Linked DNA regions of Homo sapiens. The protein of the gene in region 1 binds, or shares a complex with, the protein of each later gene. Each region holds a gene or a part of one and is shown on either strand. Other genes may lie near its edges.

Region 1 (8,442 bases):
TTCCTAAAATATTCAGTGATTCAATTCTCCGTACTTAAAGCATAAATAGGAGATCCCTTTAAAATGTGCCTGCTGAATCCTAATTTCTAGCCAATTAGCAAAATAATTCACCTCTTGCTTATCTTGAGAAAGCTGGTAGATGCTTTCACCATGATACCACCTTTCCAAGCATGGAAAAGATAATGCTGGGAAATAGTTGGCCCGCAGGCCTGAAGGGGACACAGCAGGTAAGGCAGGACAGGTGACCAAAGGTGGGGCCTCATCCGCCTCCTCTCCAGAGTTCCCCTTCTAGCTTTGCCACTCTAGTAAGCAAGGGCACTCATAGAGATATATTAATGACTGGAGGCCACTAGAACACATACAGGGCTTTGAAGCAATAATCTGTTAAACACCACTTTAAGAGCCAGAAGAGTTAACAACACATTACCATAAATTGCCTACAAAGTTGCTTTGGTGAGATTGGAAACTTTGCTCTGGGGTGGTCTTGCTTTGAGGCAGAGGGATAGATTTGATCACCCCATGGGGTCCCTTTTAATACCTATTTTTCTCACTGCTTAAATGAAAGAGAAAAGAAAAGCCATTTCAATCATTTTGAAAACTGAATGTTATGGAAATGGGGGCACCAAGTCCAGTGCACTGAAGAAACAGATCCTTGGTAGCAATCTGCTAAGCAATAGTTAAAAGAACAGACTTTGGAAAGTTGGTGTTTCGATCTGTTTTTAAAGTAATTTTCATTATTTTGTAAAAATGATGTTTAAGAATTTATCTTTGAGGTGCGCTATAATCATTTGTTTCAACCCTGTGACTTTGTTTCTAAAAACTTCTTTGGTTAATTTTTTTTTTTATTTTAAAGCAATTATAATCAAGCACAAATTCTAAATTATTTTAAAAAATCATTTCCTAGTAGCCAACACAATCAAAACAAAAGTGAAAAAAGTATACAAGAAATATTTTTTTTTAAAAAAAGAATGTGAGGGTGAAACTTTAACAATTACAAAGTTAGAAAGTATCTCTGTACTACTCATTTAAAAAATATTTAGGAAAGCTCTTCTTTACCATTTTGTTGGCCCAGATACACATCTTATCATAGATAAGCTATTAGAATTCTAGAATCACATTTTTTTTTTTCCTAAACACAAGCTATTGCTTAAGGGAAACTGACTTGGACAGCTTTTCAAAAATATGAAAGCTGAATTTTTCCCCAGGTAAAAATGGAAACAAAAATCTTTTATACCTCACTCTACTAAGTACTATTTTAGCTTAGTACAAAAAAATCTTCTTTAATCCTGGTTTAGCTTTTAATATTATATCACACATTAAAATTCATAAAGTAGTTCATTCCAGGCAAAACAAACTACTGTTCAGCTCTTCTCCGCAAATAGCACAGGAGGTAAAATAAATGCAGTTGCTTTCAGAATAGCTTTTATCAAGGTAGGGTGTACTACTCCATTATTAAGGCGGCGCCGGGGAAGTAGTTAAGAATTGGAGCTTCTACTACTTACCCTCCCATGTGGGGATAGGGTGCAGCACTAGAGTCTGCTTTTTATTTCACTAAAATTGTGCCGCAGGACACACATTTTCCATAAAAACTCTATTTTGCTTCTTCATGGATTGCTGTATGCATTGAATCATGCTTTTAGATTTTACACGAAATGAACTCTATTTCAGCCTTGATTGGTGAACATCCTACTCTGATGCATGAAGAATTGCCTGCAAGCACACTGCTTTTACACAAGCAAAATTAAAGTTATATGTAGTTTTAATAATTGTGATAATAAACACTGACATTTATTAGTTGTTTATTATGTGCTGGACATTGTATTAATGTATATTAACTTCTTAACTTGCCTAACAGCCCGGAGGAGGTATTATGATTGTCCCATTTTAAAATTGAGAAAACTCCGTTAAAACAAACAGGTTAAACAATTTGTTGGTGGAGCAATGCTGAGATCTAAACTTAACTAGAAACCCAAAGTTATTTAGAGTTCATGACATTACCTGCACCTTCTTTACTTGAAAAAATTCTTAATTTTTAGAGCAGGCTGGACTTGTTTTTTGGTGGCCCTTTGATAAATCTAGCTCATTAATGTCTAATTTTTTAATAGCTATTGATTTTTGATTAAAATCCAATCTAAATTTATTTTTCAGGGTATAAAAATTATATTTTCTTATTAATGAAAATAAGAAATGTCCTCTTTTATGGATGCTTATTAGTGATGGAAAATATTTCCCACTCTCAAATTTTAATATATTAACACTGTCTTTAGCACCATGGTTTCATATTTTTAGATATTTCTTTCCTTCCAGGAACAGTATTATTTTCCAAATCTAGCCTTTAAAAGTCTTCCAGCTTTTAAAAGACGACAATTAATGGGATGCATTTTATAACCACATAAGCAACATCTTAAAATGATCTTCAAGGGATTCATAAGAAATAAAACTTTTACCAAGTGTTAAGTTCCTGCCTGTAACTGAACCTGAAATCAAGATGAACCTATGTTTCATTATATCGTAGAGGGATTTCTTGTAAAGAGACAAAATAGTGCAACTACCAGATTAATCATATACTGTTTATATTAACTTCATAAATTTTCTAAAGCATTGTTATGAAATAGCATACCTTTAGTAATTCTTTAGGTAATTACATAAAGAGATGTAAAAAATGAAGAATTACATAAAGAGATGTAAAAAATGAAGAAAAAAAGACTTTTGTGTAATTCATGTAAAAGCTGTAACTCAGTAATTATATGCTTTCAAACAGTCTTCATGGAAACAAACTGCTAAATTAATTTAACTCCAAAAGTCACACACCATAAAATGCACAAATCAAATTTTAAAAAGTATACCCTTACGGTAGAAATCATCACTTAAAATTCTGTAAAATATACAATTCTCAGATAATAATCATGAATTATTATTGTTCATAAAAATTCCTCTAATAAACTCATCAGGAAAATCTGCAAAGCTTATAGTGAAAAGAAACCTTAAGACCAAGGAAGCTGGGAGGACTGGGTTCTCCCAGATATTTTCATGAGACCAAAGTTTAAAAGGGGCTGTTCTCCCCACAATCCCAGAAATGCCATTGTCTAGTTTTCCCAACTGGATAATTTGTCAAACAAGTTATTTCATTAGGACAATGCTTTAGCACATGCTCCTCTTCCCATTCTAACAAGAAAACCTCCCATCCTCTATGACAAACAAAAAGATCTCCAAGTTTCACTTTTCCCTTTCTAAAATAAGTTTGCTTTTATTCTGAGGAGGTGGCTTGAAGTAGAGGAAGGAGCAAGAGACTTAGCAGAGGATTTGAAAACTCTGACTCAACCTTAAACTTGGTTTTCTCATTTTTCTTCTAGGGAAAGGTTGGTATGAGGATTCAATGAATTAATGTATTCAGCTGCTTTCAGAATAGCTTTTATCAAGTTAGGGTGTGAATCATTATCAGGTGCAAGATATTCTTATTTGTTGAATTAGAGCATGTAAGTTGTGAAAATGTTTGCAGCAACCAGGTCTGGCCCAGAGCCTATAGCCCAGGCAGAGGATGAAGCACAGGGCATAACTGTCCCTACTGGAGCACATGGGATACCTCTGCAGGGAGGCATCTCACCTGGACTGGGCCACCAAGGAGCTCTGGTGTTTCCTGAGGCTAGGTGTCCCCAGGTGGGGTCTGACTAGCCAGGAAGTCCTTTCTTGAAGATGACTTAGAATTCAAGTCCTTCAATAGTTTAGGTCCTTGTTATGGTATGTCCCAAGGGCACTCCAAAATCATCTTCTGCATGTTTTACACTCTATAAAGAGGTGGAAGAGAATCCAGTTTCCCAGGCCTTAATGGGGGCTGGGTTTTCTGTGAACCACTGAGGGCCTCTGCTTTTAACATGTGGTTCTTTAGAAAGAAATCAGGTTTCAGGTGCAACCCAAACCCAAGATTTGTCTCAAAATATGTTTCAAATCTCCTCATTTTGGGGGAAATGAAATGTATACTGATTTCACATGGACTCCTCTTTGGCAAAATGTAAAATTTAAAAAGACAAAATTTTGCAGTCTGTGTTATCTGTGGTTTTCTCCATTTTATCCTTTATTTTAACTCATTTTTAATATGCATACTGGTTCCAGTTTAAGCATCATTTCATTATTTCAACTGCTACAAGACAGCACTAATTCAAGTGCTCTATAACGTGTTTTTCCAAATCTAAAGTACTAATTTTGCATTGATAATACCTTTAATACCTTAAGATTTCTTAAAATTTAATTCATTTAATCATGGTTAAAGGGAAGAATGTGAACAAACTGGTAGTGATCTCCATTATAATAATATTAATAATTTAAAGATTTATATTGCAGCAGCAAAATAAAATTACACACACATACACATATCAGTTAGTCATTTTGGAGTTTGGTTAGATGGCCAGTAATACTGCAGTAATAGAAATGTTTTATTTGAAAGAGTTTCACTAAGAATCTACAGTATGTATATACTGTATATTTTCATCATTGGCTGAATACCCTAGCTATGGGCTTGGTCTCAGCTCCTCTTCAGAACAAACAAATACAGCTAAGGGTGGCACAACCAGTTAACCAATAATTCAGGCAAAAATAAATTAAACATATATTCTATCCCAACTTATCAGCAGATAAAGCCTTTAAGCATACATACAGGAAAGTTATCCTATAGTATCTTAACAGCATATGAAAAGAAATATCACTTAATAAGAATTGGTATAACTTTAGCTCAAGAAAAAGCTTGATGAGTAAGGACACCCAAATCACATTTGGAAAATAAATAAAACCAGAGTCCTAGAAAAATTAGAAAACAAAAGCTGTATTAAGGAACCACAAAGTCAAATATCTGGCTAGATGTTTTTTTTTTTTTTTAAAGCAGTTCAATGTTGAAGTTCATATTGGTCTTAAGTAAGCCATTCTTTTATTAGTATTGCAGATTAAGTGATAAGTAAAGTAATTCTCTGCTCAGAGCCCTGTCAGTGGTGACTTCAGGAGCAAAGTTAACTAATAAAAGTGTGTGTATTAACACTAAACACTACAGAAAAAGTACCAAACCAAATTATTTTATTTCATTTCGTATATTTTTTCTTTTTTATCATTCCTAGAAGTCATAGTTTATCTTTTCTCTTTAACCATACTTAGAAGTCATATTTTTTATACATAAAGAGTTCCTCATTCTTTATCTTAGGAAATATTTTATAGAAGCATTTAGAGATCAAATTCAATAACTTTGTGTGCGTGGGCAGGTGGGTGTGTACATACGTATATAGATGCCATGCTTTTCTCCTAAAGAAGCATGACTTTTTTATTCACAATTATAGCAATGATTTCCTTATAGTCTGTTCCTATAGACATCAAGACCAGATTGATTTTCATTAAATAAACTAGTGAAAATGGATTTTGTGACATTTCTAAAAAGTAATAGTTTCAGAACCTTATGATAAGCAGTTTATTTAGCTACTCAACAAGTGGCTAAATATTTCTTATTTATGCAGTATCCGTAGTACTTTCACTCTTTAGTGTTGAATGAGTTTTTTCTAGATTTCTATACATGAAAATGTATAACCACTTTCTACCATTGATGAGAATGAAGTAAAATCGAGATACAATTTCACTATGAGATTGTCATATGAATATTTCGACTTTTTCTTCCATGTTCAATTTTTATCCAATTTTAACTGACCTTATTTTTAAGAGCTGTAAATGTCACAAGTTAAACATGTAAGAAAACACATTTGCAGCCGGGCGCGGTGGCTCAGGCCTGTAATCCCAGCACTTTGGGAGGCCGAGGTGGGAGGATCATGAGGTCAGGAGATGGAGACCATCCTGACTAACACGGTGAAACCCCGTCTCTACTAAAAACACAAAAAAATTAGCTGGGCGTGGTGGCAGATGCCTGTAGTCTCAGCTACTTGGGAGGCTGAGGCAGGAGAATGGCGTGAACCCGGGAGGCAGAGCTTGCAGTGAGTGAAGATCGTGCCACTGCACTCCAGCCTGGGTGACAGAGCGGCACTCCATCTCAAAAGAAAAAAAAAAAAAGATAATATATTTGCTTGTGGTTTTTGAGTCTAATACACTAACTAGCAAACTTTTATCTAAGGGTTTGTAATGCAAATTGATTTACTGAATTATAACAGTTATGAGGTTACTTTTAAAACTTAGTTTAAAAAACAATACAGATTCACATACCCAAAGTTACCCGGAAGGCAACTTTCTTTCCTAAAAAGTCCAAAAATTTTAAGAAAGAGAAAACATGCCCGTATCTTGGAGTATGGATAGAATTCCTTATCAGCCCCATTTAAAGCTGCCTTCAAGGATTTTATTAAACTTAATTATGAAAGATTACAAATGAGATGGTGTGTAATTGGTACCAGCTGCAGTTCGTACTGGAAAGTATAAATACAAATGAAATTATTTATTTTTATTTATTTACTATTCAAATGGCGATTCTGAAACCAGTTGGGAAAAAACTGACTTTATTCTTTTTCTATTGAGTTTAAAATACTTTACTTAATAACAACAGTAGAGACAAATATCCCATTTAAAGACTACTTTCACCCCCAAATAACCCAAAGAATGAAGGAACACAAAGCAATTTTCTTCCCTCTATCTAATTAGGAGCTTATTGTTTTTATATCAGAATTAATGATTTGGGACCAAATTCTCCTCAAGCAACTATACGAATTTAAAAACATATAAATCTATGTATCTATCTATCTAATTTCTTATTGAGATTCTTCCTCAAGCATTAAAAAAAAGCTAAACAAAGAAGGGCAAGGAGGAAAAGGAGACCGCACCTGGGGAGGACGGCTGGGTGGTGTGCTGATGAGGGGGGCAGGACCCATGGCCGAGGCAGCATTCAAGCTCCTTTCCCTTTCGTCCTGGTATATTCGGTCTCTTTCAGCTTCCGGTAACTGCAAGAAATTCTGCATAGCCCGAAGGTTTACCAGCAAAGACTGGGATGCAGTCTTGGGGTCCTCTTCCTTTCGGAGGATTTCTGAAAGCAAGCCCTGCAAGAAATGAAAGGCACAGGGTGAGCCTGCTGCCTTGCTTTGCCTGGCCAGCAGTGATCCTTCCCTTTTCTTCTCCACTCTGTTTAGAAAATGAACAGTCAGAGGCATTAATTCTGCATAGGAATATATTAGTTACAACTGAAGTGGTAGAGAAGAGAGCCTCAATTGTATTCTTAATTTTATTAAGCATCTGCTTTACATATAACATAAACTGAAACTGCCTAATTGGTCTCCTTCCTTTGAGTAGCTTAACTTGCCATGAAATCTTTCACAGAGAGACGATCCAGGGAAGTTAAGAATAAACGAAATCCTTATAATGCAACAGCACTGAACTGTATAGTTCCCAAGCTGCCTAGACAAAGGCAGTGTAATGCCTACAGCCCAATATGTAAAGATACAAAGCCATTTCTAGAGAAGTAGAACTTTCAAAGAAAATACCAGAAAATGAATTTTAACATATTAGAACAAAGGTTATTACTAAAGCATCACCTAAGGTTTATGCTGTATTTTCACAGGCAATGTTTAAAATTATTCCTTAAACTCTGACTTATCAAAGTACATGACACTACGTGACCCTTTCAATTTACCATTTTCAGAGAACCTCACTGATTATCACAAATGATTCTAAATACTATCTTGCTGTATTATACCACTGGGTAACAGGTTTAAATTTTGAACTTTAAAAACCATAGACAAGATTTGAAATATATTAACTAATTTTCAACATTGCGAAAGTCCATCACAGCATGCCAAGGAAAAGAGTATCAAATTCTGTAATTATCAAATTTCTTGGGGAATAAAAATTGTTAGTGATAGAAGAAATTTATAAATCATTAGAAAACTCTTAAGGTGTCTTTCCCCCCTAAATAACAGAACATCAATTTTCAACTAATTTTTTTAACTTTTGGAAGAACTCTTTCAAAAATGGGTGGTTCTCCCCATTGCATTTAAGAGACAATATGAAATAAAAGAATTGGAAAATTTTCTGTTCATTTTATAAGGGCTAAGCAGCTCTTCTCTCTTTAATCTTGTACATGAAATAATGCTTGGAATAGTAAGACATATTTGGTTTCTTCACTTAGCCAGAGTATCAGCTTCAGAATAAAATTTTGTCAGGATTTCTATATAATTTGCAAATCTACTTTCCAATATCCTGCAGAAACAGTTAAAGGTATATTGGGGGAAGGAAGGTAACGTGTCATGTCAAAACAATGAAGCCCCAAGGTTAAAACATTTGTTTTTTTCATGGTTTGTTAGAAGTACAAACCTGGTTTTGTTCCCAAATTTAAAGATAATGTACCATGTTGCCGAAATGCAACAGTTGGGTGCAGACAATACAAAAGTACTGATACTTCTTAAAATGATTTATAAGCTGGTATTTAAAAAGAACTTTTAACAGGTGCAGAGGGCTTCAGAGTCCATTTTAAAGTTG
Region 2 (7,822 bases), on another chromosome or scaffold:
GCAGGTCCAGCGCCTCGCGACGCTGCCGGGCCACCCTGGGCTTCTCGCCCGGCTGCTGCTTGGATGGTCTCCCAAACCCCAGCAGCCCGAGTCCATGGGTGTCCCGGCAGCGCCACATTTCTCAGCTGGCCTCTTTTCTTGCCCACTGGGAAGCCAGTTACCATCCCTGGGTGCGGGACCCTGCTTCCCGAGAAAATCCCCGACCCCACTCCACTCCTTGGAGAGCCACCTACAGCTCCCAAAGAGGCCCGGCTCAAGCCCCAGGCCTCGCGTCCCTAGGCTTCTTGAGTTCGGAAAAAGGTCCTACACCGGCTTCGGTCATAAGAAGCAAAAGCCTAGGAAGCCCTTGGATTGTTCCCAATTCCAGTAAACTTCTGCCCCCGCCACGACCCTGAAGACTGTCCACAGGCTTCCTCTCCTTTCACCCTCCTCTGTTCGCTGTACACTCTCTCCCTCGACCTGCCCATCTCTATTTCCAAGCAGAGGCCCCAGAACCACCCGCTCAGGACCAAAGACCCTCTGCTGAGGGGCGGGGAGGTGACCCAGCTTCCTGCAAACTCCCGACTTTTGCCGGAGCCGTGGGCGAAGCGGCCATCAATCGGGTCACCTTTGTACCACCCGGACTTCGCCGGCCCTGGAGGCTTTGCTGCCATATGGGCCGCTGAACCTAATCAACTTCGCACAGGTCCTGGAGGGGTGAGGACCGGCCTTGGGGCCGCGGGGAAAGAGTTTAGGTCCCAACACAAACACTCGTTTTGGTATTATAAAGACATTTATTTAATCTATGAAAATAATGTACAATAAATACTTTCCCCTTTTCCTATTATTAAAGAATTTTAATAAATAATCTACAGTCTAAAACATAAAAAAGAGGAAAATAGGTCCCTCTAGTTATTTTTAAGAAAGTCCCCCTAGAGTTTAATTATTCCTGAGATTTCATTGGAAGGAGTCTACCAAACGGAATTTTTCTGTGTGAATTTTAAAAGATAACCGAGTGCCCAATATTTTAGAAGAAGAAGAAAGGGAGTGGATTAAACGCTAATTCAGTAATACCTGAATTTTAGCAAAACACATAAGTCTATGCGACTGAGGGTGGGAGAGGCTCGATTTTTCCAGTAGACGGCCAAGGAGCGCGGGGGTCGAAAGGACCGGGAGGAGGAAACAGGTTAGGGAAACTGCAGGTCGATGGCACAGAGCGTACTGGTGAAAAAATCCAGCTCTTCCTCGGAAAAAGGGACCGGGCTGTCGAGAGAACCCTGTAGGCTAGGGGAGAGGCCTCCGGATAGCTGGAGACAGGAGTCGGCCGCGAAGAAGTTGAGGTCGGGAAGGAAAGGTGAATCCTGGCGCCCCGAGAAGACGTCTTCTGGCAATGGCCCGGGCTCCAGCCCGCCGGCCCCGCGCAGCGCGCAGCCGGGACTCGACGCGCCTGCGCCCTCTAAGCGAACGGCTAAAGGCCGGGGGTCCGCGCTTAAGGCCCCCGGCACCACCTCCGGCGGGTGACAGCAGGCTTCCCACGCCGCCCGCGAGGCGGAGGGGCCGCCCGGGCTGGCCGCGGGTTCCTCGGCAGGGTCGCAGATGTCCTCCAGGGCTCCCGGGCAGGCAGGCTCCCCATCCGGCGGCTCTCGGTGCTGCGTCTGCCGCTTGTGCTTCATGCGCCGGTTCTGAAACCAGACTTTGACCTGCCTTTCGGTGAGGTCCAGCAAGGCCGCGATCTCGACGCGGCGTGGCCGGCACAGGTACTTATTAAAGTGGAATTCCTTCTCCAGTTCCAGCAGCTGCGTGTTGGTGTAAGCCGTGCGCAGCCTGCGCGCCCCGCCGCCACCAGCCTCCGGCAGTCCCAGGCCATCTGCAGGGAAAACAGGCTCGGCGTCATAGCGGGCCGTGTACTCAGCCCAACCTCAGTTCGGACTACCCCATCCTCCAAAACCAGTATCACCTCTCCCCTTCCTCGCCACCCCACCCCCGCCCCCACCCCAAAGCCGCTCGCTTTACTGCTTTTGGGTTTTCTTCTCTCCCTCTCTAGTCTACAGCCCCGGCCCGGGTCAGGGCAAAGCATTCAGAGCCGCCCACGGGCCACGCAGGGGGCGGAGAGCGGCTCCCTTCGGCGCCGGAACCTCAGATCCCCCTCCCAAGCCCTCCCAGTGGACCCCTCAATTCGGAACTTTCCAACTCAACCGGAGCGAGGGTCAGAAAGATTGTTCTTCACCCCTCTTCCTCCCTAGCTCTGAATTCTTCCTCTTCTCCTAGAGTTGGGGCAGAAAGGACCGAATCTTTTCTGCTTCTAGGGTCTATCCCAGCAACAACATACTCATTCCCCTACACAGATACGGGTGAAAACCTCAATCAAATCATTTTCTTCTAGCAGAAAAAAAGGCGTTTCCCCAACCAGCTTCCAAAATCAGCCATAGGGAGAGAAAGAGAGAGAGAGACAGAAAAAAAAAAAGACGCTGTTAGCGGCCAGGCCTGAACCCCAGTGGGATATTCTACTTCCCCATCCCAGGAATGGAGGGGGTAAGGAACCCCAACAGGCTCGCCACCATTTTTTTTAAACCTCCTTCCACTGCTTTTTCTCCCCCTCTTCTAGCTGCCCCTCACCCCACCCCCACCACGCTTACCGACCTGCAGGCGATCCGACCCCGGAGGCCGGAACGGCGGAGGCGGCCGGAGAAGGAGACGTGGCGGATTGGCTGGGTTTCTTGGCGGATTTCTTCTCTTTCATCCAAGGGAACTCGGGGGCCGGGGGGGCAGCGGGGAGTGGCGGCGGCGGTGGCGGCGGCAGAGCAGGCCCATCTTCGGCTCGCTTTTGGCTCCTGGGTCTCTGAAGGGTGGAGGCGCCGGGCTGGAGGCTGGGGAAGGTTTGCTCGAAAGGAGGAGGAGGAGGAATTAATGTCGACTCCTTGATTGATGAAGTTTGAAATGTCTCCAAGACAGCGGGGAAGGAAGTCAGACACTCGGCGAGCGACGGCTGGCTGTTTATAAACCCAATCTCCCTCTCAAATTCAAAATTCATGGCTTTCAATGGTGGGGGAGGGGGCTGCTGGGGGGGGCGTCAGGAGGGAGGATCGGAAGGGACCCCCCTCCTGCACCCCCCCCGATTTATGTAATGGAGCGATTTTGGGAGGGGGAGATTTCGGTCTCTCTTTTTTTTAATTTTGGGCCTTTATAATTGTATATTGCTGATAAATACAAGCGTATGGGGACTCTCTCTATTAAACCCAGGACTCCAGCGAAATTACAGGGAATTCGTGGTCACGGGACCGGCCTCCGCCAATCGCTCGTCTGGGCCTGGTGGAAAACAGAGAGCATTATTTGGTTTAATTGATTCAAAAACACCAGAGGACCACGACCAGGACACCATGAGCCCCCATTCCTACACCAGTGCCTCACATGCTCTCTCCCCAATGCCTCCGTTTCTCCAGAAAAGCTAGAGGAACCTTTTCCTCATCCCCTTCGAAGGTTAGAAGGTTTCAGAAGCCTGGAAAAGAAGAGACTCTAAGGGAGAAACCTTCCTCTTTTCCAAGTATTTTAATAGAGTAAATTAAGGCCTTCTTTACGTGGCCAGCAGCATCCCCTTCCCTTCTCCCCTTCCCCAGGAAAAGATGAGTGAGGATCTCCGCGTTGGAGGAAGAGGGAGTCGAAAGAGGCTTCCACTCTTTGAAAAAGGTCAGTATTAAGGTGAAAATAAGAAAGAGATTTACAATCATCACACCACTATCCCTGTTACCCTCCAAAAACAACAGTTAAATCTTGGGAAATGGACAGGAACTCCCAGGCAGACACATAGGAGTGAGATGGAGCATAAGGGGCATTTTTGGGCCTCTGGCCTCCATCGCTGTATGGTCTGGGTTCTCTTCTCTGCCCAGTGTTTGCAGCACTGCCTCTGCCCCTTATGTACCCCTGCTTTCCTCACTTTCAGGCTTCCATGCTTCTCTGTGACATCCCCCAAAAACAGGCAGAGTCTAAGATGTGCATGTACCCACTCAAGCCTCAAGCTTGTATCTGTATCCATATCCAGGGACATGAACAAGAACTGAGGTAGCCATTGGTTTAACTTAGAGCACTCTCAAAGTTCAGATCAGCGTTATGTGTGTGCATGAGTGTGGTGGGGAGATTTTCCCCTAGGACAAAGAGACTTTCCCTCCCATTTTTGCCATTGTGCTAGTTAAAAAAGAAAAAAGAAAAAAAAAAAAAAAAGAATCCCTGACAAGGAAGAATTCCCTGAAGATGGTAGGGGTGGAAATAATGACCACTGAGATGATATTCCATTTCTGGCTGCTGGGGGAAAATGTTTTTAAAATTTATTTTATTTTGAGGAGACCAAGATAGTCTGAAGTTTAGAGTGTTGTAATTTACTATGGGGAGAGGGCACAAGACTCTGAGCCCCAAGCAATTGGTGGGAAACTAGGCCTCAAAGCAGAAAATGAAAAGTCGATCTGGGGGAAGATTTTTAAATAAGTGGGTCAGACGGATGGAGAGGAGATGAGGCGATCAATCTTAGCCCCCTGACAGCTCCCTCCGATTGCATCAAAGAATTTGGCTCTTTGGGAAAGCAGAGCGAACAGCCAAAATTTCACATCCCTTAAAAAGGCCTGGGGGTGGGGGTGGGGGTGCAAAAGAGAAGGGTGATTCTGGGAGAGCTGGGAAACAGATGGGAAATGGGGACAGAGGGAAAGCGCTAAGTTGGGTGGAAAGTTTGCCTGGAGAACTCCCATGGCTTTGGCCTCCCCTCCCCCTCCTCTCTCTCTGCTGCCCAGCCAGGAGGAGAAGGCTGGTTAGCAGAGAAATGGCAACTGAGCCCGGAGCTGGAACTAGAAACTTTCTGTCAGTGTAACATCTGCGTGAGTACTTAAAAAGAAGGACAGAGAAGTCTGAGTAGAAGCATGAGGGTGGGGGAGAGGAGGATGGAGAAAGGGGAGTTGGAGGTGGGGGCTGCAGGGACCGAGGAGGCATGCTCTGGAGGGCTCAGAACAGAGAGAGCTGCTCTGACCTGGGCAAAGTGGCCAGCGACAGTAGTGTGCAACTAGGCTCCAAAGAAAACAATTTTTGCCATTTAGAGGTGTGGATGGGGGTGGGCATAGAATAATCCAAATAGTAGCTGTCTGGAAGTCATGCAGGGAGGCCTGAGAGTGGGTTCTCCCTCTGGCCACCCCCTTGAACACCTCTGAAAGTTTAGCAACAGCTTCTGTAGCTGGCTGAAGGATCCAGAGCTTATCTCAGGCAACTCGGGCAGACTGTCCCTGCAGGAAATACAGCTCTCTCTAACCCTCACTGACAGATTTTATGGCCAGATTAGCAAACAGCGGAAAACTTGGGTGTTAAAAGGGGCCCAGAGAACCCTCCTTTTCAGAGACATCCCTCCCCCGCCCCCCTGTCCTGCTGTGAATTTAACAGCACGGATATTTTACCCACGTCTTTGGCTGCTTTAGCTGAGCGCCTGGAATCTTCCAAAGAGAAGGATAGGGAACACCAAGCCAAGTTGGTTCTTATTTTTCTTGTTTGCAATTCCAGCTTCGAGCCAAAGCTCTGTTTTTCAAACTTAAGCTAAATTCTCTTTCTTGGCCTCTTTCCTGCTAGATAAATAACAACCCAACCCAGCCCCAGAGCCAAACATGGTGCTTCATCTAGTTATATCATTCAGAAAATGTTATTCAAGGAAGAAGAGAGAAAGAGAAAGAAAGAAAAACCCTTGAGCGTTATTTGATCCCAATCAAACTTTGCACGCTCTTATGCCTTTAAATTATAGCCTGACCCAATGCTAAATTGCTTGCTGCTTGGATGAGTCCAGTTAAAATCCTACTTGGTGGTGGGGAAGGGGGAGGGCGTAGAGTTCAGGTTGCTTTTTTATTGTTATTTATTGTTGCATAAAGACTATAATTACTAACCTTGGACTGCCAGGATGCAACATAAAAATGAAAATCAGCCCTCTCTTTAAGGCAGGGCCTGGAACGATTCTCACTCCCCCAACATCACTACCACCAAATATATGCTCCTAATTAAGCAATGCGGGCACATCGCTTACAATTAGAATTATGCAGCTCTTCAGCAAGCAGCCATCGCTTCTCTTTCAACGAATTAGCTCCATATTTCAGCCGCCCTGTCTTCTCGCTCTTATCGGCTCCAGCGACTCGGCGGTGACATTTCATCTTTGACAGACCTTCTCTATTTTCACTCCAATGTGATAAAACTTTTATGGAACCACAACTAAGAAATGAAGTTTTCCCAAGGATGATGGAAACAGAGCCGCACATTAGCCTGGGGACCGTTTTATTTACGCTTGGATCCAACAGCTTCTCCCACCCTCCTCTCCCCTTTCTCTGGCAGGGGAAATCGAACGTGCTTCCCCTCCCTCCGCCTCGAGTTTTATTTAGTGATTTAATTTTACTTAGTTTTAAAGTTTGACCTGAGAAGTCTAGGCCTCAGTTTTGTTTTTTTTTTTTTTTTAGATTAATCATTTTTCTTTGTTTTCATTTTAGACCCAATGGTGGTTGGGCTTCGGGTCACGTGACACCTTCTTTGTGGCTCCGGAAGAGGATTGTGAAGTTTAGGTTTCGTGGAAGAAACCGTAATCGGCCAGATTTTCTTGGTGGTGGTGGGAAGGGGTGGGGGGTGGGGGGTGCATGGACGCTGTGGCCAAAGGAGCTAACAGACGAAAGGTCAATGAATGAAAAACCTAGAGGCATACAGGCCAAACAGAAAAACCTACAGAGAGCATCCAAGAGTCCCCCGTTACCTCCCAACTTGCTACTTAAACCACAGCTGAAGAAGTTGGCAAAATGTTACAGGCTCTTATGAGTGAGAAAATGGTATTTAAACTTAAGACATATCAAGGGGGAGACAGGAACCTGGGCAGTGGACAAAAAGGCCAGGGAAGGGTCTTCAGTGTCCTTGTCCTTGTCCTTCTTCCCTTGGGGGAAATTTGGCAGTCAGCAGCCTTGCTCTGCTATCTAAATTGGACCACCAGGACAAGATAAAATTGATAACAGAAAGTTTATTCAAGAATTGTTTGACAGACAACCCTTTTAGGTAAGGAAAAAAGTAACTACTGAAGAACAAAGAAAGTTCCAAGAGGGAATTAACTCTAGTTCTACAAATTCAGGACTATACAGTGACGATTAGGAGCTGAGTTCATGCCTTTTAGAACTAATTACAATTGTTCGTAAGTACGAGTTTAACATAAATCTACAGCTCTTTTCTAGAGTACAATAGTAACTAAAATAGCTGGTTTTACATGACAGGAAACACAATGTCCTTTGTAACAGGTAAATACTAAAAAAGTACAATTTTTTCCTTTTTTTCCCTCATATAAATACATAATGTAGGGGGATAAATAATACAAAAAAGAAAATATTTTAACAGGCTATAACCAATAAATATATATGAAAATGTTCACTAGAACACACGCTTTTTTGAGCAATGCTGGACTTCTGCAGGCCCAGACATCTCTCACAGTTGTTTTTACATCCATTAAAATGTAAATTCTAAGTGCAACAAAAGTGTCCTGTCAGGAGGCTGAGCAAGGCACACAGGCCCTGCCCAGCCCCTGCCTGGGACAGTTTGTTCAAATATACCCTGTTTTCACGTTAAGTCAAGAGAGCAACAGAAGAAAAGTATAGAACCTCGTGTCACCAACTGCTTTCTGTGGAGAGGGGGATGGAGCTGGAGCTGAGATGGAGGCAGCAGAATGGGCAAACCTTCAGTCCTAACAACCTGCCTGCCCTAGCCTCCACACTTTTCCTTAAAAAAAAATGTATATAATTTATAATATAGGCAGCTCTTTCAGGATCTCTCACCATCCCTGAGCCCTCTAAAAACTGTAATTGAT

Evidence for each region.
Region 2: SATB1 (region 1) and HOXB2 share a complex: the UniProt entries of both Homo sapiens proteins name them as parts of the nuclear protein complex.

The regions. Positions count from the first base shown.
Region 1 is NC_000003.12:18,379,605-18,388,046, forward strand, and holds part of SATB1 (DNA-binding protein SATB1), read right to left. Parts: intron 7,008-8,442; coding exon 6,795-7,007; intron 1-6,794. UniProt on the Homo sapiens protein: Crucial silencing factor contributing to the initiation of X inactivation mediated by Xist RNA that occurs during embryogenesis and in lymphoma.
Region 2 is NC_000017.11:48,541,902-48,549,723, forward strand, and holds HOXB2 (homeobox protein Hox-B2), read right to left. Parts: upstream 3,209-7,822; 5' UTR 3,011-3,208; coding exon 2,620-3,010; exon of another isoform or gene 2,057-2,619; coding exon of another isoform or gene 1,993-2,056; intron 1,847-1,992; coding exon 1,167-1,846; 3' UTR 754-1,166; downstream 1-753. UniProt on the Homo sapiens protein: Sequence-specific transcription factor which is part of a developmental regulatory system that provides cells with specific positional identities on the anterior-posterior axis.